Regions from separate parts of the Homo sapiens genome. Here all the other regions are linked to region 3. The links come from fine-mapping of genetic effects on gene expression. A gene starts in region 3. Each other region holds a variant in brackets. All regions are shown on one strand. Distances are from middle to middle. Region 1 overlaps KCNT1 (potassium sodium-activated channel subfamily T member 1). Region 2 overlaps LOC105376313 (a long non-coding RNA gene). Region 3 holds the start of KCNT1 (potassium sodium-activated channel subfamily T member 1).

What was found.
Region 1: its variant is fine-mapped to the expression of KCNT1 in blood mononuclear cells (TOPMed, PIP above 0.99).
Region 2: its variant is fine-mapped to the expression of KCNT1 in hypothalamus (GTEx, PIP 0.94).

Annotation. Positions count from the first base shown.
Region 1 is chr9:135,766,105-135,774,275 of GRCh38, forward strand. It overlaps KCNT1 (potassium sodium-activated channel subfamily T member 1), which reads left to right. Exons shown (of 31, transcript NM_020822.3): 14 at 2,506-2,569; 15 at 2,725-2,833; 16 at 3,843-3,951; 17 at 4,194-4,343; 18 at 4,753-4,991; 19 at 6,611-6,845. Among named protein-coding and RNA genes, the nearest start is that of KCNT1, 68 kb to the left of the region's middle. The variant G/A (reference allele first, on the strand shown) is at 4,323.
Region 2 is chr9:134,947,479-134,955,649 of GRCh38, forward strand. It overlaps LOC105376313 (a long non-coding RNA gene), which reads left to right. Exons shown (of 3, transcript XR_930421.3): 3 at 1-1,549. Among named protein-coding and RNA genes, the nearest start is that of FCN1, 34 kb to the left of the region's middle. The variant G/A (reference allele first, on the strand shown) is at 3,055.
Region 3 is chr9:135,698,165-135,706,335 of GRCh38, forward strand. KCNT1 (potassium sodium-activated channel subfamily T member 1) reads left to right here and starts at 4,021. Exons shown (of 31, transcript NM_020822.3): 1 at 4,021-4,204. The coding sequence starts at 4,095. SOHLH1 (spermatogenesis and oogenesis specific basic helix-loop-helix 1) reads right to left here and starts at 1,317. Exons shown (of 8, transcript NM_001101677.2): 1 at 1,239-1,317; 2 at 831-962; 3 at 165-312. The coding sequence starts at 1,303. RefSeq lists a silencer at 3,820-3,949.

The DNA of each region.
Region 1 (8,171 bases), 68 kb after region 3:
ACCATTCAGGGTAGACCTTCTGGGATGGACCATTTAGTGTGGACCATCCAGGGTGGATTGTCTAGGGTGGGTCATCTGGGGTGAACTGTCCAGGGGGGACCATCCAGGGTGGGTCATCTGGGATGGACTGTTCAGGGTGGACCATCCAGTGTAGATCATGTGGGGTGGACCATCTAGGGTAGACTGTCCAGGGTGGACCATCTGGGGTGGGCTGTCTGGGGTGGGCCATTCAGAGTGAACCATCTGGGATGGATCTCTAGGGTGGACCATCCAGGGTGGATCATCTGGGGTGGACCATTCAAGGTGGACCATCTAGGGTGGACCATCTGGGGTTGGTCCTCTGGGGTAGATCATCAGGGGCGGACCGTCTGGGGTATACCCTCTGGGGTTGTCTGGGGTGGGCCATCCATGGTGGACCCTCTTGGGTGGACCATCTGGGGTGGATCGTCTGGGGTGGACCATCCATGGTGGACCCTCTTGGGTGGACCGTCTGGGGTGGATCATCCAGGGTGGACTGTCTGGGGTGGACCCTCTGGGGTGGATTGTCTGGGGTAGACTGTCCGGGGCCTCTTGCAGTTTCTCTAGCTCAGGTCCCAGGCCCAGATGAGCAGGACCCTGCAGCCAGGCCCTTGTCCCTGCACCATACCCACTGTGGAGCAGCCCAGGCAAGCCCAACCCAGCTAAGTCTCTGTCTCCCTTTTCAGGGTGAGGGGCAGCCTTTTGCGAGCTCCACCTTCCCCTGCTCCAAGTCTAGGGAAATCTTTGTCAAGTTCTAGGGAGGCTCAAAATAGAACAGGGGCGGGAGAGTCAGCTGCTGTGAGTCAAGGTGGGAGAACGGGCTGAAGGTAGAGTTCCTTTTAAAGACAAATTGACAGAGTGACAAGGTAACAAGAGTATATTATTACCTGGAACTTTCCAGAATGTGTCGGTGCACTTTCTGGGACACTCCCTGGAAAACCCTCCTGGTGACATTTTCATTCCAGGAGCCTGAATGTGTCCTTAGTGGCATAGTGTTGGTGGTACTCCCAGGGTCTCTCCTCATCACTCCCCCTCCCCCTGCCATGTCCAGAGCCCCAAGCTGGAACCCATTGCCTATGGAACGCCACCTCTTTTGTGGTCCCGTCCCCAGCACACACAGGCGATGCACCTGCTTGGGCCCAGGGAGTGGGGAGAGGGCAAGGGCGTAGGCCATTCCCAGCCAGGCAGGGATGAGCCCAGGGCTGTGGGTACAGGGCCTGGGGCCCCTGCGGAGCAGACAGTGGTGCCAGTGATGTGGTGGGGTTCCCTGCCCTGGGGCAGAGGCGACAGTTTCTTAGACAGCGTCTCAGCAGTGCTAGGTGGTTTCTGCAGCTGGGCTTTCAGGAGACCCAGGAGGCGCTGGAAGTGACCACCCAGGTTCCCAGACCACAGAGTAGCCAGGCCAGGGAGCGGACAGGGTCTCTGCCCCCAGATTCCCCCCTCCCTCCTGCACCCCAACCCAGCCCTGGGTGAATGTCTCATGGCAACATACAAGATGGGTACCCCGGAAGCCAGTGCCCAGGTCACTGGCACACACCTAGGTGGGGTCTCCACCGGGCCTGCTCCTGCCAACCCTGGACCCCTAGCCCCTGACGCCTGGGAGTATGGACAAATCCAGGCAGCCCCAGCCAGCAGAGCCCCCTCGCACGACCTCCTGATGCCCCTCCTACCTGGCCAACTTAGGGACAAGCTGGGGGGTTGCTTCAGAGAACAGGGCCTGGGGGAGGAAGGGCAGGCACTGCCCTAGGAAGCACCATGGGCTCCCACTCAGGGCCGTGGCCAGGAGAAGCTGTCAGCTGGTGTCTCCAGGACACACCATCCATAGCATCTGACCCCCTGCCCCCACCCGCTGTCAGCCTGCACACACTCGGGGGACAGGTGTGGCTCCTGACCCCTGCCCCCACCCGCTGTCAGCCTGCACACGCTCAGGGGACAGGTGTGGCTCCTGAACCCTGCCCCCACCCTCTGTCAGCCTGCACACGCTCGGGGGACAGGTGTGGCTCCTGTGCCTTCTCGAGTGTCGGAGCTTGGAGTCTCCTAGGGTGTCCAGGAGTCCTGACCCGGCTCAGAGCCTGCCAGGGATGGGCCAGGGAGTCTGGAGAGGCCCAGGATGCCTGCGGGGGGGGGGGGGGGGGCACTGGGATACCGGTGGGGGGGGCACAGGGATGCCTGCTGGTGGAGGGCACACAAGGATGCCCGTGGGGGACACTGTGATGTGGGTTGGGGGGGGGGGGGGCAGTATGGGGATGCCCACTGAGGGGGCACTGTGACTCCTGACCAGCAGAGAGTAGGGGCCTCCTCCCGCCTTCCATCCTCCCCGCCTTCCATCCTCTCCGCCTTCCATCCAGCCGTCCTCTCAGTCTCTTTCTGTGCACCTGCTGCACCAGCCTCCTCCCAGAGGAGGTCCTCCCCACCTCACCTCCGCACCCCCGGCTGCACTGCCCACCTCCCCTGCTCCACCCACGCTCAGGCCCTGGTGCATTGCAGGATGGACAATGGGGAGGCCTGCTTCATCCTCAGCAGCAGGAACGAGGTGGACCGCACGGCTGCAGTGAGTGAGGCTGAGGCCCTGCCCAGGCGGGAGGGGCACCGTGGGGCCGGGGAGCGGGGGTCCCTGAGGGAAGAGACCTGCCCCAGGCTGCCGGTGCCGCCCAGCAGCCCACAGAGGCCAGCCCGTCTGCACTGACCAACCACCCACCCCGCCAGGACCACCAGACCATCCTGCGCGCCTGGGCCGTGAAGGACTTCGCCCCCAACTGCCCCCTCTACGTCCAGATCCTCAAACCTGAAAACAAGTTTCACGTCAAGTTTGCTGGTGCGTCTGGGGCACACGTGGGTGATGGTGTATCTGGGGCAGGGCACGTGTGCACACGTGGGTGATGGTGCATCTGGGGCAGGGCGCATGTGCACATGTGTGACGGTGCGTCTGGGGCAGGACGCGTGTGCACACGTGGGTGACGGTGCGTCTGGGGCAGGATGCGTGTGCACACGTGGGTGTCGGTGCGTCTGGGGCAGGGCGCATGTGCACACGTGGGTGACGGTGCGTCTGGGGCAGGGCGCGTGTGCACACGTGGGTGACAGTGCATCTGGGGCAGGGCACGTGTGCACGTGTGTGTCGGTGTGTCTGGGGCAGGGCGCGTGTGCATGCTGTTGGGTGATGGTGCGTCTGGGGCAGGGCGCGTGTGCACACGTGGGTGACGGTGTGTCTGGGGCAGGGCGCATGTGCACGCAGTTAGGCGAGCTGTGTGGGGCAGCGGGAGGGGCTGGCCCTGGAGCTCCTCACACAAGCACACCAGGAGGTGCTGGAGGGGACGGCAGACCCCCATCCTCACCGCATCCGAGAAGGGACCTAGGGGGTCCAAACTCTTCAGATGAAGTCTTATGCTGGGATCCTGGGGTCAGTGAAGGCAGGGTCAGAGGTCAGGTGGGGGCAGGAGCACCGTCTGATGAGCACCTCTATGGGCAGGGACCATGCCGGGTGCCCGGGGAACGGGGGGCAGGCCCCATGCCAGGTGCCCAGGGGACAGGGGTCAGGGCCCACATGGAGTGCCCAAGGCACAGGGGCCAGGGCCTGCCCCGCCCTGGAACTCCTCGCTGAGCTGGGAGAGAAGCACAGGAGCGATGGAAGGTCCACCGAGGCTCAGACCAAGTAGGGGGTTGAGGTCCACAGACTCTCGGGGCAGAGATGCTGAAGCCGGACAGCAGACACGGGGGTGCCAGGCAAGGGTGCATCTGCATAGCACCTTCAGGAAGTGAGCAGGTACTGTGGGGGAGGAGAGAGCCGGCAGAGCGGCAGGTGGACCGGCCTCCCCCACTGCCCGCAGACCACGTGGTGTGTGAGGAGGAGTGCAAGTACGCCATGCTGGCGCTGAACTGCATCTGCCCGGCGACCTCCACCCTCATCACCCTGCTGGTGCACACGTCCCGCGGCCAGTGAGTGCCCCGTGCCCCGGGGGACCGACCTCCATGGCGGGGCCGGCGCAGGGAGACAACGCAGGGCCTGCTTGGGGGCGGGGATGGGCTTCCCAGAGGAGGGGCACATGGCGGGCAAAAGTCCTGCATAGGGAGGGGATCCATGCCAGGGGAAGCAGAGGGGGGCACCTGCAGACCCAGCCGGGGAGAAGGGGCAGCCATGGCCGAGGGTGACGCTCCCCTGGCCCCGCCCTGGCCCACAGGGAGGGACAGGAGTCTCCGGAGCAGTGGCAGCGCATGTATGGGCGCTGCTCCGGCAACGAGGTGTACCACATCCGCATGGGTGACAGCAAGTTCTTCCGCGAGTACGAGGGCAAGAGCTTCACCTACGC[G/A]GCCTTCCACGCCCACAAGAAGTAAGGCCGGGCTGCATCCACAGGGCTGGCGCTCCAGGGCTGCTCTGCTCTGTGCCCTCCCCACCCTCCCGGTCAGGCACAGGGGTGGCCCTGGGGCGGGGCTGCAGAGGGCTCGGGGGAGGGCATCAGGTCATCCTGCCTGGCGAGGGCAGCCGCAGGACTGGGCTCCGGGTCCACATAAAAACCTGCCACGCGGCTCCTCCCTGAGGCTTGTGGGCTGACCCCAGCTCTCTGGTCCCCAACACCTCTGGGACGGGAGGGCTCAGCCAAGGTCCCTGACCCCAAATGGCCCCCAGGAGGAAGACGCGGAGCTCCGGTGGGGACTCTGGTGATTTGCAGGAAGGGCAGGCAGGGAGCGGGACAGGGCGGGTGAGCGGCGGTACCTGAAGTTGCCGGTGCCTCTGCCCAGGTATGGCGTGTGCCTCATCGGGCTGAAGCGGGAGGACAACAAGAGCATCCTGCTGAACCCGGGGCCCCGGCACATCCTGGCCGCCTCTGACACCTGCTTCTACATCAACATCACCAAGGAGGAGAACTCGGCCTTCATCTTCAAGCAGGAGGAGAAGCGGAAGAAGAGGGCCTTCTCGGGGCAGGGGCTGCACGAGGGTCCGGCCCGCCTGCCCGTGCACAGCATCATCGCCTCCATGGGTGAGCCGGGACAGGCGCGCGGGACTCCCTGGGCCTGCTCCTTTGGCGGGAGACCAGGCGGGACACCGGCAGGTGACCAGGTGGGATGGGAGACCAGGCAGGACAGGGGGAGGTGACCAGGTGGGACAGGAGACCAGGCAGGACAGGGGCAGGTGACCAGGTGGGACGGGAGACCAGGCAGGGCGGGAGACCAGGTGGGACAGGAGACCAGACCGGGCAGGGCAGGAGACCAGGCCAATGTGGCCCCCAGACCCAGTTCCTCTTGGCCTATGCCTCCAACCTTGGACAGGTGGAGTCTCTCTGGGCCTGTTTTTGAATCTGTCAAACAGGTGTCCCCGCCTTCCTGTGGCCACCTTTGTGGGCATTGCTCACTGTGTCCAAGTGCCTGTCCAAGTGGGGCCGCCCACAGGACCGGTTGGCAGCTCAACCGGAGGCTCCTGGTGGTCCCATCAGCCCGGAGGGTCTGCTTCACGTGTGTCCCTCAAACAGTCGGGAGTCCTGACGTCCACTGGGGCCAGGAGTTGGCGGAATGAGGTCGCAGTGGCCGAGGGCTTTGGCCTCTTCTCGTGCCTTCAGGGATCCTCCCGGGGAGCCGCTTACCAGACAGGGTCAGGCTGCCTCTGAGCAGGTGGAGGCCCATGGCCCCTAGGGCACCACCCATAGTGGTGTTGCCCCCTCCCCAGCCAGGCCTTCCTGGGGGACAGTTAGGGAGCAGGGCCAGGCCAGGAAGCCACTCAGGCCACAGACCCACAGCCGGGCCAGCATGTTGCCACCTCCGTACAGTGGCCCAGGCAGAGGCTGACCCTATGGGGCACCCCAGCACGCCCACCCTGGGGTGTTGTTACACGGTGGCTGCTGGGGCACCAGGTGGTTCAGTGCAGTGGGGCACAGTCTCCAAGACCCAGAGGGCCCTGGGGTTTGGAGACGTGCCGATGCGGAGCCCACCACCTGCCAGACCCCGCAGGTTCCCGGCCGCCGTCTACGGCAGCTCACTCGGGGGGCCGGGCCTGGCCGCAGGGCACTGGGGAGGCAGGCTGCTGCTGCCTAGCCACACCTCCACCTTCACCTGCGCAGTAGGCACTCTGCCCCCAGGTGGCTTCCAGGAAACCAGGGTGACTCGGGCAACCCTCACTGTACCCACAGAGGCCCTGGGCCATACCTAGAGGTCCACAACCCCCATCTGGCAGCCTGGGGTGGTGCAGGAGTGGCAGAGTCTGCTCCCACAGGCACTGAGTCACCCAGCTGCTCCCCACCTGGCCCCATCCACCAGGCAGCCTGACCAGCTGCACAGGCCCCTAAGGCTGAGACCCCCGAGCCCAGAATCAGCCAACCCCCTCCTCAGGCATCTGGTGCTGAGGCCACAGCAGCTGGCCTGGGTGGCACCGATGGGGCACTGGGGCCCCCTGGGTCTTCGCTCAACATCATCGCCACCCCAGAGGCCACTGTCCCTGTTGTATGGAGGGGGAAACTGAGGCATAGATTGAAGCTCCTCAGCTGGAGCACAGGAGCCAGGCCATGACAGGGTCTCCAGAGCTGACTGTGTTCACCTGAGCTCTGGGAACTCGCCGCCCATGGAGGGTGGGAGTCGGGCTGTGGCCAAGCACAGGGCTCTCTTCCAGGGACAGTGGCCATGGACCTGCAGGGCACAGAGCACCGGCCTACGCAGAGCGGCGGTGGGGGCGGGGGCAGCAAGCTGGCACTGCCCACGGAGAACGGCTCGGGCAGCCGGCGGCCCAGCATCGCGCCCGTCCTGGAACTGGCCGACAGCTCAGCCCTGCTGCCCTGCGACCTGCTGAGCGACCAGTCGGAGGATGAGGTGACGCCGTCGGACGACGAGGGGCTCTCCGTGGTAGAGTGAGTGCTGCCTTGGAGACGGCTCCCAGTGGGGGGAGGAGCCGCCCATGAGTGCGGGGGATGGGTGTCGGAGCATCCTTGGTGGTCCCCCATGCTCTGAATTGCAGCTTCTGGACAGCTCCGTGGAAGTCCTTGTTTGACAAATGAAATCTTCAGGGGGCCCAACACAGACATCAGGGCCACATCACCCTCGTCGCCGGGGAGCACTTTTGAGTGTCACTGAGATGGGGTGTGCTGGGCTACACCCTTTCCAGTTGGGGCTGGGGGTGCAGAGCTAATTGGAGCGAGGCAGCTCACTGGCACAGGGGCTGTCAGGCACCAGGCAGCGCCACCCTCAGAGAGGGGCCCGTTCCCACCCACCTCACCAGCCCCATAGTGGCCCGGCCACTCTCTGAATCAGGATGGAGCTGGGCAGTGACCCCAGGCCATCCTCCACCCAGTGCCCTAGGTCTCCCCCTTAGCACTACAGAGCACAGAGGGGCACAGCCCGCCTGACCAGGGGTGGGTGTCCTCTGAGCAGGGTCCCTGTGCAACCCCTGGGCAAGGCAGTGTCCCAGCCTGGAAACCACAGCCCGTCCTGAGTTGTTGTCCTGGCCTAGGTTTGGGGCCAAGTCCTCCTGCTTCAAATCATGAGACAGGAGGCCCCACTCTGTTCTCAGCAGCTTCTGCCTTTTGGCCTCAGCCAGGACAGACAAGTGCCCCAGCTGCAGGGCCCGAGGTCCATCCTCAGCGGGGCTGCCTCACTCTGTCCTGGCCTTTGCCTCTGGGGTGGGGTCAACACACTGTAATGACAGCCCAGCTGCTGGGAAACAGCCCTGAACCATTGCATGTGTGTGTTGGGTGCTGCTGGGGACGGGGTGGTGGCCTGCTGGGGACAACAGCCTGGCTGGACAAGTATGTGGGTAAGAGCCCAAGGCCAGAGTGCCTGCCCCACCAGCCGGGGGTGCTGGGGATGTCAGGGAGGCATGGCGGGCGGGCAGAGCCCTGTGGGTTTTGCATGTGGCTGAAAAGCCTGGTCTAGGCTGTGGTGGGAGGAGAAAGACCGAGTAGGGCATGGGGGTGGGTGTGCAAGGGGGGTGTGTCCGGTGTGTGTGTGTGGTGTATGTTATGTGTGTGGTGTGTGTCCATATGTGTAATGTGTGTTGTGTGTCAACGTGTGTTTGTCACGTGTGGTGTGTGTTGTGTGATATGTGATGTGTGTCTGGGTGTGTGTGGTATGTGTCCGTGTGTGTGATGTGTGTCTGAGTGGTATTGTGTGTGGTATGTGGTGTCTGTGTGTTGTGTGTGGTGTGTGTCCGTGTGTGGTGTGTGTGGTGTCTGTTGTGT
Region 2 (8,171 bases), 750 kb before region 3:
TGTGCCGCTCTAGGGCTGCTCCGCCTGACAGACAGCAGTGTCGACCACCCATGTTTGCTGCACAGACTCTAGCTTCCACACCCCTCCCCACCCCAGCAGCCTGGGGAAGGAAGGCTGGAGGTCCCTGCATGACGGGTGAGGAGAGAGGACAGGAGCCCGGTGCTCTGAACACCGCCCCAGCCCAGCTGCACGTCAGGACCCCGCACTGGCCTCTTACATTGAGAAGCCAAGACCCACCCAAAACCCAGCTATCAAAGTCTCTGGGGACAGCACCAGCAGGGCAGAGGGCGTTGGTTCCCTTAGAATGTGCTAGAAGGCTCATCCCTGCAGGAGGTGCCCCTGCAGGCATCCTTGCCCCCACACTGCCTGGTGCTGCCCACCTGCTCACTTGCAGGTGACCCTAGTTTCTCAGTGGCTCGGCAGCCTCGCGGGCTGTTGTAACACTGACACCACGTCTGTGAGATCATTGGCTTGGAAGATTCAGCTCAGAATTGGATAGAAGGGCCCTGCCCTGCCAGGCACAGCTGCCGGCCCTTGTCACCTGCAGCTGCATGAGAAACTAAGGCTCAAACCAAATCCTTCTGGACAGAAAAGCAGGTCCCCCTCCACTACCCCTTCGTCTGGGCTCTCGGTCAGCGGGGTCAGGGTGGCCGGGACAGTCACTCTCATTTCCAGAGGAGGCGAGAGGCAGATGAAGGCCATGGACAGCAAGCCATGGGGCCACAGCACAGCCTCAGGTCGTTGCTGACACACCTGCGCCTCCCACAGCCCTCCCCAGGAAAGCCGCGGCAGAGCTCACCCCACTCCCAGGGTGCTCACCTGGGACCTCCTCACCTCTGCACCTGCCCTGGGTATCCTCAGCCGTGACCCTGGCCTGGCAGTGCCGGCGGACAGGTTGCAACCAGCCCAGCTCCCCAGGGGTGAGAGGGGCCCATCACCGGCCACCCACAGGCATCCCTGGGTCTGCTTTTTGGAGCAGTGTCCGGGGTTCCCTTCATATCCTTTATATCTATGTGAACCTGACCGGCACACTCACTCCAGGCCCAGGTGTTCTGTAAACACTGAACACCATGCTGTTAACCAAGGTTACGTTAAAAAGTGACTATGTGGCCAGGAAATAGATTTTGTATAGTTATGTGCTGTTAGGATAGATACGGGTTTTCGTCTGCGGCTCCTGGCTTATAACTCCCATAGCACTTGTTCCCATTTGCGTTAGAATGTTGGGGGTGTTGAGCCTCATGGGCAGCCTCTGCCTTCTCCTGCCCTCCTTTCACCTGCCCCAAGGCGGCACCCTAACTTTCTCCTGCCTTTCGGATTGTGGGTCTTAAGACCCTCCCATGAGAGGGTCCCATCCTATGCCATGGGGGAAGGAATGCTGACATCATGAAGCTTCCATAAAATCCCAAGAGGACTCGGTTCAGTGCGGTTCCTGGAGTGTGGCGCGCCCAGCAAGGATGTGGGAGCTCTGCGTCCCTTCCTCCCACTTCGGTCTACGCATCTCTTCATCTGCAATATTCTTTTTCATTAATCTATAAATGTGTTTGCCTGAGCTCTGCGAGCTGCTCCAGCAAATTAATAGAATTGGAAAGAGGGGGTCATGGGAATGCCAACCTGAAGGCGGCCAGTCAGAAGTTCCAGGGGCCCAGACTTGCGGCTGGTGTGTGTAGGGGCAGCCTTGGCGGGGGAGCATCACAGAAGTCTTCTCCTGTGTTGATGATTATTGAGGTGTGAGAGTAGAGGAGAAACACAGTTCAGGTGAGAGGCTTCCCTGCACAAGTTACCAACCATATGACCTGGCACAACTTTCCCAACCTGTGCCCCTTCCTCGCCTACTGGGGGGTAATGAGATCAATGCCGTAGCCTGAGCAAGAGCCCAGAACGGGGCTGGGTGGGTGGGCAAACCTCGAGAAACGTGAGCTCGTATGTGAGGCATATGACAGGCCGAACAGTGTGCCATGTCCGTGGTGCCATGCCCCAGCGTGGCTTTGAGCGCAGTGACTCTCTTAGATTTCTGATTGTAAAGGCCCTGTGTGCTGGGTAAAGAGTTTGGAGAAATGCAGAAAATTTAAAGAACATGAAGAACTGCCCAGAAATAACAACTGTGAACGTTTTGGAGGCCTCTCGTCCTTTCCTGTGTACCTCGTGGCACAGCTACACTGTGCCCTGCCTGGGGTCCCAGAACATGACAGCATCCACTGCCACCCTGACTCATGCCTGTCCTCAGCTGGGCTCCTGCGCCAACCACAACCCCACTCCCCCCTGAATGACAGCCAGTCTGTCAGGATATTCCTCCTCCGCTCAGGGCAGCCCCACTGCCGAGTCCCCAGCATGCATTGACTTGGGTACTCCCTACCTTGAGTCAACCATTAGGCCCATCACGCTGATGCAGAGCAGGGAGCCCCAAAGTGGGGCTGGGCCCCCAAGGATTCTTTACTTCACCCAGGAGAGACTTCAAGGGCAAGCCCCTGGTGGGGTGGGGCTTTATTGACGAGGCAGTGTTGCAGCTCCGTGACTGTCCCTACAGAGCAGGACTACCCCACAGGCAGTGCGCTGAGAGGAGCAGCTCAGAGCAGTTGTGCAGTCACATCTATATCTACTTTTAATTACAAGCAGATTAAGGGGTGGTTTATGCAGAAATTTCTAGATCCTGGGGTTATTGCCATGGAAAGAGGAGGTAACGCCCAGGTGTTGCCATGGCAGCGGTCAACTCACACTGGTGGGCGTGTCTTATGGAAAGGTGCTTCCACCCCATCCCTGTTATAGCTGGTCCTCAATTTGGTCCAGCATCTGAGCCCCGCCTCTGGAGTAGAGTGCCACCTCTCCACTGCAATGTGGGTGGGGACAGATCCCCTGGGGCACCTAGCTGAAAGTCACATCCTGCCGGAAGAGCTAAGACCACACCTGTCTGTCTGATTTCTGAAGCTGGGCTCTCATCCCTTGGATCTCTGGCTCCCTTCTTGTCCTAGAGGCGAAGGGGAAGAGCTAAATATTTCGTGACCTTTAGGCCATACTTGTAGAGGGGTGTGCAGGCGGGAGGAACTGAGGCCAGGTTCC[G/A]ACTCTGGCTGGAGGCCTACCCAGGCCCCTGAGGTTTCTCCAGGGTCAACCCCATGGCCCACTGGCAGCTGAGTCACACAGAGTGATTGCTGGTCATGCCCTTGATTGAGAACGATGCACTCAGAGCGTCCTCCGCTCATAAATAGCAGGAAGCAAAGTACATTACGAGAGCATATGGTACCTCTAGGCCATTTCTGCCTCTGGCCCCGTCACTGCCACAGTGGCTGAAACTCATCTTCTGTTCTGACAGGTTTCCCTAGAAACCCATCAATTTATAGTGTCTATAGCTGGCCTTTTGGAGGCCCCAGACCAAACTGTGTTAGAAAACAACAGCAACAACAAAACTCCTATTTCTCCAAATGGCCCTGGAAGATGCACCGGCTGTGCCCTCAAGACGCTGTGTGTGGGGCATCCGCCTCCCTGGGCGCGTGGAGCTGGCTGATGGCCAGGGTGTAAGGGTGCATACTGGGCAAGGACGGGCTGAGGCAGTTGGCAAGGTCTGCATCACCTCCACCCATCCGTGGTCCCTGGTCATGAAGGATACGCCCATCCATCCACCTTTCTGAAACTGTTGTCAACGCACTCTGAATTCAGGAATGCTCTCCTCTCTCTTCCTTCTCCCCTTGGCAGACTCAGGGCGGAAATGGTAGCTGACGTTTTCCCCAAGAGCGAGGACAAGGAATGACCAAAAGATCATCATCCCAGGGGCTTTGGGAATGTGGGCCCTGCTGCATTTCCTTCAGCAGAAGGGTTTCTTTCCTTCAGTTTCCATCAGCTTTCAGGGAGGACAAAGGTCCCTTTTGCTAACTGATCTCTGTCTCACCCTCTGCAAACCCATCCTATAGGCTGCAGTCATGGCCCCACTTGGGAGTCCGCCTCCTTTCTCTCACTCCTGACTTCCCAAAACTCTGGCTGGTTGTGTGCTCCAGGGAACTTTCTAGGGTGATGGCAATATGCCATAATTTGGAGTTTTAGGGTGGTAGTTACGTGGGTGCCTACAATTGTTAAAATTTACTAAATTAAGATCTGTGCATCATATTGTGTTAAATTGTATCTCAAACAGAAAAGGACGAGAGTGCACCTTGTGGAGGGCAAATCTGTGCCGCACCCCCCAGCCCCGCCGGTGCTCTGGGGTTGGCCTCAGCTCATGCCCTGCAAGTCCTCGCCTGCAGACGCAGCTTGCTTTGCTCAGCACGCTCATGCGTGTATGCCACGGGTCAGTTGAGATCTGGACCATGGGTAGGTACAGAATCTTTCTTGGTTATTGTGATGGTTTTAACAGCTTTGTTGAGCTGTAATCTGCCTACTATCGAATTTCCCCATTTAAAATACACAACTCAATGCTTTTTAGTAACTGTCTCCACGAGCTGTGCAACCATCAGCACAGTCTAATGTGAGAACATTTTCATTGTCCCTTCCCAAAGAAGGCCTGTATTAATTAGCAGTCATTCCCCGATCCCTCACCTCCTCTAGGTCTTACCTGACCCCAGGCCAGCACCAATCTCCTGTCTGTCTCTATGAATTTGCTGATTCTGGACATTTTGTATAAATGGAATCAGACAACGGATGCTCTTAGTGACTGGCTTCTCCACTTGGCAGAATGTGTTCAAGCCTCTTCCATGTTGCAGCACACAATTGTACTTCATCCTTTTTTGTTGCTGCATAATACTCCATGGTTGCTGAATACTATTCCATGGTATTACTTGTCAGTTGGTAGACATTTGGGTTGTTTCTACTTTTTGGCTGTTAAGATCTAATGCTGCTATGAAATTCATGTACAAGTTTTTATGTGAACATGTTTCCAGTTTTTGTGAGCATATACCTAGGGGTGCAATTGCTGGGTCATATGGTAACTGAATAATTAATCTTTTGATGAACTGCCAGGCTGTTTTCAAATCAACTGCATGATTTTACATCCCACCAGCAGCATATGAAAGTTCCAATTTCTCTACATCCTTGCCAACACTTGTTATTATCTGTCTTCATGACTACAGCCATGCTAATGGATGTGAAGTGGTATCTTACTGTGATTTTGATTTGCATTTCCCTGATGGCTAATGCAGCTGAGCATCTTTTCATGTGCTTATTGGCCAGTTGTGTATCTTCTTTGGAGAAATGTCTATTCAAGTCTTTTGCCCCTTTTTAAAAAATTGAGTTCTCTGTCTTTTAATTATTGCATAGTGAGTTCCTTATTATTATTATTATTATTATTATTATTCTTTTATTTTATTTTTATGAGATGGAGTCTCACTCTGTCACCAGGCTGGAGTGCAATGGCTTGATCTTGGCTCACTGCAACCTCCACCTCCCAGGTTCAAGCAATTCTCCTGCCTCAGCCTCCCAAATAGCTGGGACTGCAGGTGCACACCACCATGCCCAGCTAATTTTTGTATTTTTAGTAGAGACAGGGTTTCACCATGTTGGCCAGAATGGTCTCAATCTTGTCAAGATCAGGATCAGGTGATCCTCCTGCCTCGGCCTCCCAAAGTGCTGGGATTACAGGCATGAGCCACTGTGCCCAGCTGTGAGTTCTTTATTCTAGATACAAGTCACTTATCAGATGGATGATATATAACGATTTTCTCCCATTTTGTCAGTTGTCTTTTTAATTTATTGTGTCTTGAAGCACAAAAGCTTTTAATTTTAATGAAGTCTAATTCATCTGTCTTTTCTTTTGTTCCTTGAGCTTTTGATTTCATATCTAAGAAGCTGTTGAGTAACACAAGGTCACAAAGATTTATGCCTGTTTTTTTCTAAGAGCTTTTATAGTTTTAGCTCTTACATTTAAATCTTTGATCCATGTTTTTTTTTTTTTTTTTTTTTTTTTTTTTTTTTTTTTGAGACAGAGTCTTACTCTGTCACCCAGGCTGGAGTGCAGTGGCATGATCTTGGTTCACTGCAACCTTCACCTCCCTGGTTCAAAAGATTCTCCTGCCTCAGACTCCCAAGTAGCTGGGACTACAGGCACATGCCACCATGCCCAGATAAGTTTTGAATTTTTACTAGAGACAGAGTTTCGGCATGTTGGCCAGGCTGATCTTGAACTCCTGACCTTAGGTGATCTGCCCCCCTTGGCCTCCCAAAGTGCTGGGATTATAGGCATGAGCCACTGTGCCTGGCCTAATCTTTGATTCATTTGAATTAGTTTTTTATATGTGGATAATTTTTGAATATGCATATGGATATTCTGTTATTCCAACGCCATTTGTTGAAAAGGCTATTTTTCCCTATTGAATGGTCTTGGCACCCTTATCAAAAATCAATAGGCCATAGATGTGAGGGTTTATTGGTTTATTTCTGGACTCTCAGTTCTATTCCATTGATCCATATGTCTATTCTTATGCCAATAAACACTATCTTTATTGTTGCCTTATAGTGGGTTTTGAAATCAGGAAGTCTGAGTCCTTCAACTTTGTTCTATTCAAGAATATTTTGGCTGCTCTGGATCTCTTGAGTTTCTGTACTAATTTTATGATCAGCTTCTTTATTTCTACCAAAAAAGTCAGGCAGAATTTCGATAGGGATTACACCAAATCTGTAGGTAAATGTGGGGGCGTACCACCATCTTAACAACAGCAAGTCATGCCCTTCAAGAATGTGGGATATCTTTGTGTTTATCTAGGTCTTTAAACATTTCTGTTAACAACCTTTTGTAGCTTTCAGTGTGCAAGCCTTGGGCTTCTTTTGTTAAATTTATCCCTAGGTATATATGCAATTATAAGTGGAAATTTCTTTAAATTTCATTTTTGGCTTTTTCATCACAAGTGTGTAGAAATAAAATTGATTTTTGTATATTAATCTTATATCCTGCCACATTGCCGAACTTGTTTATTTGTTCTAAGAGTATTTTTCATGGATTTCTTAGGAAGATCATTTCATTTGCAAATTGAGATTGTTTTTCCTTTCCTATGTGGATATCTTTTCTTTTTCCTGACTAGGTTTTGCTAGAACCCTATTGTTGAATAGAAGTGGGGAGAAGGGACATCCTCGTCATGTTTCTGATCAGAGGTAGAAAGCTTTTTCAGTCCTTCTGAATTAAGTATGAAGTTAGCTGTGGGCATCACGAGCACTCTGAGTATTTTTAGACGGTGCCAAAGCAAAGCCCTCCTCCGTTCTCAGCAGACCCGTGAACAGCCATGAACCCCAGTGTCCTTTGCTTTCTCTTGTTCCTTCATGCTCGCCTTCCACCCTCCTCTGTGCTGACCCCTCCAGGCTGCAAATAAAACCCACCAGCTGCTTCCTATGCTACTGTCAATGCATCAGCTAAAGTTGGAATCTCAGCACCAAACCCGAGCCCTTTGTGCCTAAGGCCCCGTGGCACAATAACCTCCAACACAGTCGTTAGGGTGAGACCTTAGGAGTGAACAACCCCTATGCAAATGCCCAAAAATGTATTCAGATGTCACCTATGTTTGTACCTGTAGCTGTCACAAATCGTTTAGAAGTGTGCCATTGGGTGGACGGCTGGATGGATGAAGATAGGGGACGATTTCTGATTTAACAACCACCAAGTGTCAGGAGAGAGAAACACAGTCTGCGAGTAGCACTGACTCTGGCAGAGATTTTATAACAATTCATGCAAAGATTATTTATTCAATAAATATTTATTGAGCTCCTATTATGCACTTGGCACTGGGGAAAAACAATGAAGAAGACATAGAAATCCTGTCCTCTGGCACCTAAGCCTGGTGGGTTCAGGGAGATGCATTTGGTTGCCCTGCCAGGGCCTGGGCTTGAGGAGGCCAAGCCATCTCTCCTAGTCATCTGAGCCAGAACTTGGCAAACTTCTCCCCAGCTGAGTGAGTGTGTCCAGAAGACTTGCATTACCAGGGACCCCACCATGCAGCCATGGCTTAGAGTGCCCTGGAGTCTGAGTTCAGGTCCCGCAGTTCAGAGCAGAGGGAAGGCAGCTGGCAGAGTAAGGAAGTAAGGAGAATCCATGCTCACCCTTGTCTCCCACTATGTGACCTTGGGCCTGGGGCTGGCATGGCAGGTGCTACAGCCAGACAATAGAGGCTCCAAACCCAAGTTTCTGTCACTGTGGGAGCTACCATGTCAGAGGAAGGTGATGATTAATGCACAAATATGTATTTTCTCCATCAGTCTGGTCTTTAACC
Region 3 (8,171 bases):
AACAAATCAGGAAGTGCCCTGCCGAAAACGTGGCCTGCTCTAGCCGTGGAGACCCAGAGGGCTGAAGGAGACGGGGATGACAGGGGACACACTGCCTGCAAGGTGGTGAGATGTCCCATCACCGTGATGCCGGAGGACTGACGGCGTCTACCCTTACAACTCACAGCGTGCTGCTCCTGACTGGGCCCCAGGGCGCTGGCAAGCCGCAGGAACTGCACAGACATCTCCAGGACCGAGGCCATGTCCTCCCGCCGGCCATCGAACTGGGGCAGCAGGGCCCGCAGACGCTCACAGCTCAACGACATCCGCTTCCTGGTTCCGGTCAAGAAACAAATACCTCTGGGCCCTCCTGCCCTCCCCGAGAAGGGACAGCAACTGCTAGAACCTGCCAGATAGACCCTGGGCGCTTGTCAGGCAGAGGGGGCTACAAGATGACTCAGAGCTGCCCCCGTGGTCTGAAGCCCCGAGATCCACATCAGAGCACAGCCTGGGCCTGACCCCTGGACCTCGGCGACAGGCTGTCCAGCCCAGGCCCAAACCATGGCTGCTTTGCGGTGTGGAAAAGACAGCGAGGGTCAGAGGCAGTCAGAAGCACAGAGGGTCACAGGTGCACAGCCTCAAGAGGCCAAGGCTTCAGGATAAAGAGGGGCTGCAGGATGTTCCCCAACAGGGCTTTTCTGGTTTACTTGGAGATGTGCAGTCTGTCCTTCTCCTGGGCACAGGCCACGAGCCCCTCCCAGCTGCCTGACACCTGGTGGCAGCCCCGAACATAATCTCACCCGCTCCACCCCTTTACAGCGCCCTCACCCCTGGGAGGCACCACCACTCACCTGCGCTCCCTCTCGCTGATCACGTTCCGCCGAAGGCAGGAGCTGGGACCCTCGGCCACCGTAGGGGCCTTGGGCGGGCCCGAGCCCCGGGCCGAGTCCTCGCAGCAGGAGAGGGCACCAGACAGGGAGCCGCTGCCGAGAAAGCCAAGAGCACCGGGCCCTGAGAACCCCAGAAAAGGCCACCAGGAGTCCCAGATGCCAGAATGGGCGTCTTTGGGGTGCGGGTGGAAGCCAAGACTGGGTCACGTAGGGACACGGCCCGGCCCTCTCTGCACCCCTTCCCCTCTCCCAGGGTCCAGGGCTCCGCCCCAGGAGGCCCAGGATGGGTGGAGCCCAGCAACTTGCGGAAGAACCCCTGGGTACAGGCCTTGGGCCCCCAACCCCTTGGCCGCCAGCCCAATTCCTCACTTGCATCCCCTGACGGTAGGGATTCTGGAGACCTCCGGGTAGGGCTCGGAGCACCGGGACGCCATGAACTCGCAGCTGCGGAGCGACCCCACGCGCACGGCCCCTTCCGCAGGCAGCCCCGCCCCCTCACGTGTGCTCTGCCCACCTGCCACGTGCTTTCCACCTAGCCCACCCCACCCCCACTTGCAATCCGCCCCCATAGCGCATGCGCTCTAGCCCTCCCCACGCAGCCAGCCCGGGGCCCACGTGACCCGCGTTCCTGCAAAGAAGGTGCTGGAAAGGGACTCGGGGGGTCCACCCACTCTATGCCCCCGCAGGACGCCAGGGGAAGGGGCCCCAGCCCAGGTGGCCCTGCCTCTACCCTTACCTTCCCGGGGGTCGCCTCGGTTCCCACTTATGCGGTGGTCTCGGTGCCCTTGGGCACTTTGGAGATGCGGGCTCTGCCCTTAGGAGCCCAGCCCCTGGTGGGAGTGGGCGGGCTGGGCTGAGTTGTTTAGCCCAGGCCTGGGGGACCCAGGGACACAGGGAGGGGGAAGGGTACCCGCCTGCTCCCCAGTCGCCCACGCCTCCATTTTCCCCCAAATCTAGTACGCTTGCAGACGCTGCGCCTCAGGGTAGGGTCACCATCCACACTTCTGGGTCGCCCAGAACCAGGGGCATCTTGTCCCCACCCCAGGCCACCATCGTCCGTGCTCTTCCTCCCGCTGAGCTCTGCCGGGCACCCTCGGAACCGTCTGTCCCTTCACCTGGCCCTGCCCAAGCACCATCCCCGCTTTATGCCCTGGGGCCCCAGCTCGACCCCTCACCTCACACTCTCAACAGGTTTCTGCGGGATCGCGGGGGTCCTGCCCATCCAAATTCAGAAAGCTCCGGCGCCAGGTGTTTGCTCACCTCCCCGCTGAACTCCAGGAGCCGCCCTGCGCTGGGCTTGAGTCCCCCAGTACATACTTTTGGGGGGATGACGGAGGGAAGGGGGAGGTGGAGACCCTTCCTCTTTCACGGAGGTTGCGGGGGGCCCTCAGGGAAGCAGAGGGGACGAGGGTGGGGGGTGAGGCTGGACTGTTGGGAGGACATCCCTGGCCTGGCTCGTGCTGAGGTCGTAGCGGGAGGAGGTGGGGTGGGTGGCAGGGGCTCTCCTCCCGAGAGGGGAGGCAAGAAGGAGCCCGGGCAGGTGCCACCACACGGGGACGTCTGTCCGGGGTGCCCCAGTCTCCTGTGGAGAAGGCGCGGCTCTGGGCCTCGGGCTGGCATCCTGGACTTTGGGCCAAAGATGGGTGAAGGGTGTTTGGAGCAGAGGGAGGTTATGTAATATAAGGTGGTGTCTCCATCCCTGCTCCGCCCAGCCTTGGCTGCAGGTCAGACATGGAGGAGGACGGGGTTGGAGAGGAGGGCAAAAGCTCTCGGGGACCTGGGCCCCTCTCCCGGCCCTGCCCCTGGCCAGGGAGGGATGGACGGGCTGGCGATCTGGGGCTCCTCAGTGGCAGAGTGGGGCCAAGTTTTTGTTTCCCTAAAGCCCTCGGAATGTCATCAAACCTGTGACTCTCCTGCCGTTGACAACACGTGTAATTACTGCTAATTAATCACAGATGCAGATGGTGCGGCCTCTCAGTTTTTTCTGAGTTCCCCAGGCAGGAGGGCGTTGGCAGAAAGGCCACCATCTTGCCCCGGCGGCACCCGCCCAGGGGTGGTGGGACCCCGGCAGCAGCACCGGCCAATCTAGGGACCTGAGGAAAAACCCCCAAGATGCCCACGAGCTGTGTGGCGGGGGCACAGGCTGAACCTCTGCTGGGGACTTAGCATCCTAGACTTCCCCGAGTGTTCCCCACCCACCCCTCAAAAGCATCTGTGTTCAGCCTGCTGCCTCCTGGAGAAACAGGGAAGGACCCTCTGGAGAGACACTGGGGAGGCCAGGGACCACAAAGTACATGGCATGCGCCCTCCAAATGGACCTGGCCCTCCCCCTGGCCCTCGTGGGCACAGTCCTGGCTTAGTGAGGGGCCTGGTCCACCCTGCAAACCAACAAAGCTCTGGGGACAGAAATCGCAGTTCTCCAGAGCTCTGTGTGAGGCTGAGCCAGGGTGACGCATGTGTAACAGTGTGAGCACGTGCACGGGAAAGGGGGCCCGCAGGGGGACCCTCTGCTTCCTAGTCTTTGGCCTGCAGCATCTTAAGTTGGGGCCCCTCCCCACCCGTCTAAAGGTGCTGTGTGTGCCCGTCTGGGTGAGAGCACAGGGCGGGGTGCAGTCATCCCCCTCCCCCAGGCCAAGCCCAGGATGTGGCGCCCACCCACAGATGCCGCAGCCTGCGGGGGGTGTGGGGGCGGGGGGGCGGGGAGTCGTCTTGAATCTGGCTTGTGTTCAATGACCAGTGTTGACCACGGCAGAGCAGCACAAGCGGGAGGTGCTGACGGTCCCTGGGCGCAGCGGCTGGACGCTGGCGGTCCGAGCAGCGCATGTGCCCTGCTGCCCGCCAAGGACCCAGAGCCCCCTGAGCCCCCGCCCACCACGGAGCCCTCCCAGGGGTGTAGGGCCCGGTGGCGGCGCGCTTGGGCTTTTCTAGCCATTGACGAACCCCGTCCTGTTTTTCGGAGTTTTGAGGGCTCAGAGGGCCGCGGCGGGAGCGGATCGCCCTCCCTACCCCGCACCCCCGTCCCAGCCTGGGCCAGAGCCGCCGCGGGTCCCGGCGCGGCCGGCAGGGGGCGCGCGCGGACAGACGCCTGCACCCGACCCTGGAACTGGCGTCTTTTCCTCGCTAATCTGCGAGGAAAAAAAAAATGTTTTTCAGGGCAACGCGAGGGAAGAAGGTGGCGGCTCCCACTCGCTTCTCCCTCGGGTCGGGTCCGAGCTGCCAGGCCGCATGCCACTCCCTGACGGGGCGCGGACCCCGGGGGGCGTCTGCCGGGAGGCGCGCGGCGGGGGCTACACCAACCGGACCTTCGAGTTTGACGACGGCCAATGCGCCCCCAGGTACAGTCTGCTGCGCCCTCCCCACGCGGGGAGGCCCCGGTCTAACCTAAGACCCCCAAGTTCCCCCTCAGGCTCCCGCACCCTCCAGGACCCGCCATTCCCAGGGCCATCCAACTTCCCCAGGACCCGCGAGTGCCCTCCCAACCACCTTGGGGAACAGGGGCGCCCCTCAGGGTGGGCCGCACTAATCAGCAGGTGCCGAGGCAGCAGCGTCCGTCCCCATCTGTCCTCGACCTGGTAAGAAGCTGGGGGGAGCGGCCGTGGCTACATGGGGGTCCTGAGCATCTCCCAGGTGTGGGGAGTGGCAGGGAGGCTGGGGGCGGTGCAGGGCCTTCCATCTCCCCCAGCCCCTGCCCCACCCCAGCTTGGGGAGGAAGGTTCCATCCTTCTTGTGTGGCATGGCAGTGCTCGGCCAGGGTGGGGTGCCCGGCGAGGTTACCCCACACAGTAGGGGGTTTCCAGAGCAACCTTCCAAGGAAGAGTCCCCAGTGGGAAGTGGGCTAAGTGGCTGTCAGATGAGGGCGGGAGTCCTGGGTTCTGGTCACTCCTCGTTCCCCGCTGGCCTATCCCTGGGAGGAGAGGGCCAGTTGAGAATGGCATTCAGGTGACCTGGAGCTAGCTGTTCCCTGTGCAGTGTCCTGGGATGCCATGCGTCTGCCGTCCACCCAGTGACCAGTGCAGAGGCACGGACCGGCAGCTGAGTGGGACAGTCCTGAGCGGAGGTTGCCCCAGGGTCCAGGTTCCCCATCCTCTCCCCCATCCCTCAGCTCTTGAAAACAGGCAAGTCTGCCCCTCACCCTGTCCCCAGAGCCAGACTCCAGGGAACCCTGGGCAGAGCCGGTCACTGCCTTGGGCGAACCCCTCCCCACCAGGACAGAGCCCTTTCTTCTGGATCCTGCCCAGTCTCAGGCTGTCCTGAGGCCAGAGAAGGGGGTGGAAGAGCATACCTGAGAGCGGGAGGCCTGGTGCGGCTGCCTGTTTGTTCTATGGGACTCAGTTTCCCCGAGTGTAAAATGAGGAGGTAGGGCGGATGGTCTTTAAGGGCTGCCTCTGGTGAGGGACCAGGCTGGAGAGGAGGTTCCCAGAATCAAGAGGCAGGCACAGCACCCACCTGGCACCCGGGGGAGTCCGGGGTACAGCGTGTGTGAGGAGCAGGTGCTCTGAGGGTGGACAGTGACTTGGTGATGTCCTTGGGAAGTGGGCACAGCCTGGACGTGCTCTGAGGGACTATCCGGGGGATGCCTGTCAGGCACAGAGAAAATGACCCCAAGGGGGTCCTGGATTGCCCTCATCTTTGTGGGCTGGCCGGCCCCTACCATCTCCCTCCCCAGCCTAGCGTTGCCCTCCCTGGCCATTCTGCTGGAGTTTATCACCTACCCTGCTGGGCCTGACCTGCTCCAGACGAGCCGGCAGGACAGTGTCCTCAGGGTCCAGCCTTTAGCTCCAGGCCTCATCCTCCGGGTCCTTCCAGACACCTGTCTCTCCCAATTGGCCCTGCCCACCGGCCCGGGACAGCTCCTCCTCCCCGCTGGACTGAGCTGGCCTCCGTTGCAACAGAGATTCCCTGTCACACTGCAGGCAGAGCAGCCGCCGGCAGTGGAGGGATGTCAGGCGTCAGGCTTGGGGAGGGAGCAGGACCTGGGCTTGGCTGGGCTCGGGAGCGGGGAGCTGAGCTCCAGGTGAGGCCAAGGCTTGCGGCCCAGGCAGGTGGCTTCAGCTGCAGAAAGAAGAACCTTCGTGCTGCCTGGTGGTGGGGGGAGCTCTGTGGGGCGGGTTTCCCCACCAGCTCTCACATGGGGAGGAGGGTGCCAGGCAACAGCGTGGTCAGAACCCAGGCCCTGGAGTCCATAGGTCTTGGTGCCAGGCCTTGAGCAGGCCTCTGTCTTTCCTGGGTGCTGGAGGATGCCAGCCTTGGTGCTATGGTTCAGAGGGGCCAGGAGGTGCTTGGACACCCCACCCCACTCCAGTGCCCCAGCTCAAACCCCCAGCTCCACGCTAGTGGTGTCCCTGAGTCAGCCTCAAGGCCATCAGGCCGGAAAGTGGGGCTCCAGAGAGGAGCTCCTGGCCTTCCAGTTTGCAGGGGTCTTCACGGGCCTCTGGCCTCCAGGCTCCCTGCTCCCACCTCCATGCCATGGAGTCCCAGGCCCTCAGCTGCCTCCCCACAGGCCCTGGAGATGACAGCTGTTGTAGGACAGGGAGGGACCAGTGGCCCTGGTGGCCCCAGAGCTGGCAAGTGCCCACCCCCTGCCCAGCGCACTTCGCATCAGAGCCCCTGCCAGGCCTTTCCTGGAAATACCACTTCCCAGCAGCTGTGCTCCAGGGCGGGCCTGGGACCCTCTAGGCCCTGATGGGATCAGGCCCTGGCATCCTGCCAGGGTACATGCCTGGCCCAAGGTCCTGGCCAGCCCTCCAGGCCCATATTAGGGAGCAGTGCCTTCAGCAGCAGGAAGTAGCTCAGGGCTCATGGGAAAGGTTTGAGGGCCCAAGATACCGCCCAGCACTGGCCGGCAGGAGGGACGGCTCAGGCCACAGGGAACTCAGGGGTCTGCTGTGGCCCAGGAGTGGCCACAGTAACAGCTCAGGAGGACAGAGGTGAGTGAGAAGGGAGCAGACAGGGTCCCCACGAGGGCCTCTGCTTCTGTTCCAGTGGCTGGCCTGGGTGTGGCCTGTGTCCTCGCACCCGGCAGCCTCCAAGTGTGCTGGTCTGGTTCACCCACCGTATGGGGAGCTCTTGATTAACACAGAAAATTACTTGGGACGAGCCTGGTGTGGCAGTAGTGGGGCCTTGCTGTGGGGCCATCTCATGCCCTCGGAGGGTGTTGGGGGGCATCTCGGGCTCTCCCCTGAGGCTTTTTGTCCTGCTTCCCCGGGATGCAAACTTGCAGGCTTTGACCCAGGTGCCATCGGCCCTGGAAAGGGTGGCACTTCTGTGTCTCCCACAAACAATCCCAGGTTTCTCTGCAACAGGAAAGTTTGTCCAAGTGTGTCCCAGCCCTGCATGGGTGAGGGATGCTGAACGGGTATCGTGTACCCAAAAACAAGTGCTGTGTGTGCATGTGAACCTGGGCGCTCCGTGAGCCAGGCAGGCGCACCGTGGGCACGTGTGTGAGAGCTGGAGGAGGATGTGTGGGGCCCGCCAGCCAGCTTGTGTGACCTTGAAGTCACCGGTCATGAGTCTGGGGAAAGGCAGGCTGGGCTCAGCGTGCCCGTGCTAGGTGGCTGGGTGCCAAGGCCCGGTTAAATGGGCATCTTTCAAAGGTGTCTTGGGACCTCTCCCAGCTGTGTGTGTGGATAAGGCCACCCATGTTCACCCAGACCCACTTTCACCTGTGGAACTTGGAAGTGAGCCAGCGGGGCTGGAACTGAGGCCAGGATGCGATTGGCCCAGGGAGGTGAGACCAGTACTAGCAGCTGGCAAGTGTAACAGGTTTGCAGGGGACAGTGGCAGGGCAGAGGCCGCGAGCTTCCTGGGGTAGGTCCCTGGGAAGGCCCTCCTTGAGAGGGGGCCTCCAGCTGCTCCCTAGATCGGGGGCGGGAGGTGGGGGAGGTGGGAGAGGAGGGTGGCCTCACTGGAGCAGAGGTGGGGGCATCAGGAGATGGAGGGCATTGCAGGACCAGGGTCTGGACTGGCACAAGGCGGGCGCCCCGGGAGGAGCAGAGGGCCTGGAGGAGCTTCTGGGAACTGTGTCTGTGAGGTTGGTCCATCCCAGCACTGAGATGCAGTAGCTGTGTCAGCTCTGGCGAGTCACTTCACCTCTCTGGGCCTCAGTTTCCTCATCTGTAGAATGGGAGTGCTAGCATGGACCTTACGAGGTTGTGTTGAGCCCATGCTGACAGCACATACTTGGTGTTTACAAAGCTGTGTTGGCGTCGGGAGCTTGCACACCAGCCAGTTCGTCTTTGCCTTGTCACGCACCAGCCTGTGTTGACACGTCAGAGCTAAGCATTTGTCCGGTGACTTCCCAAG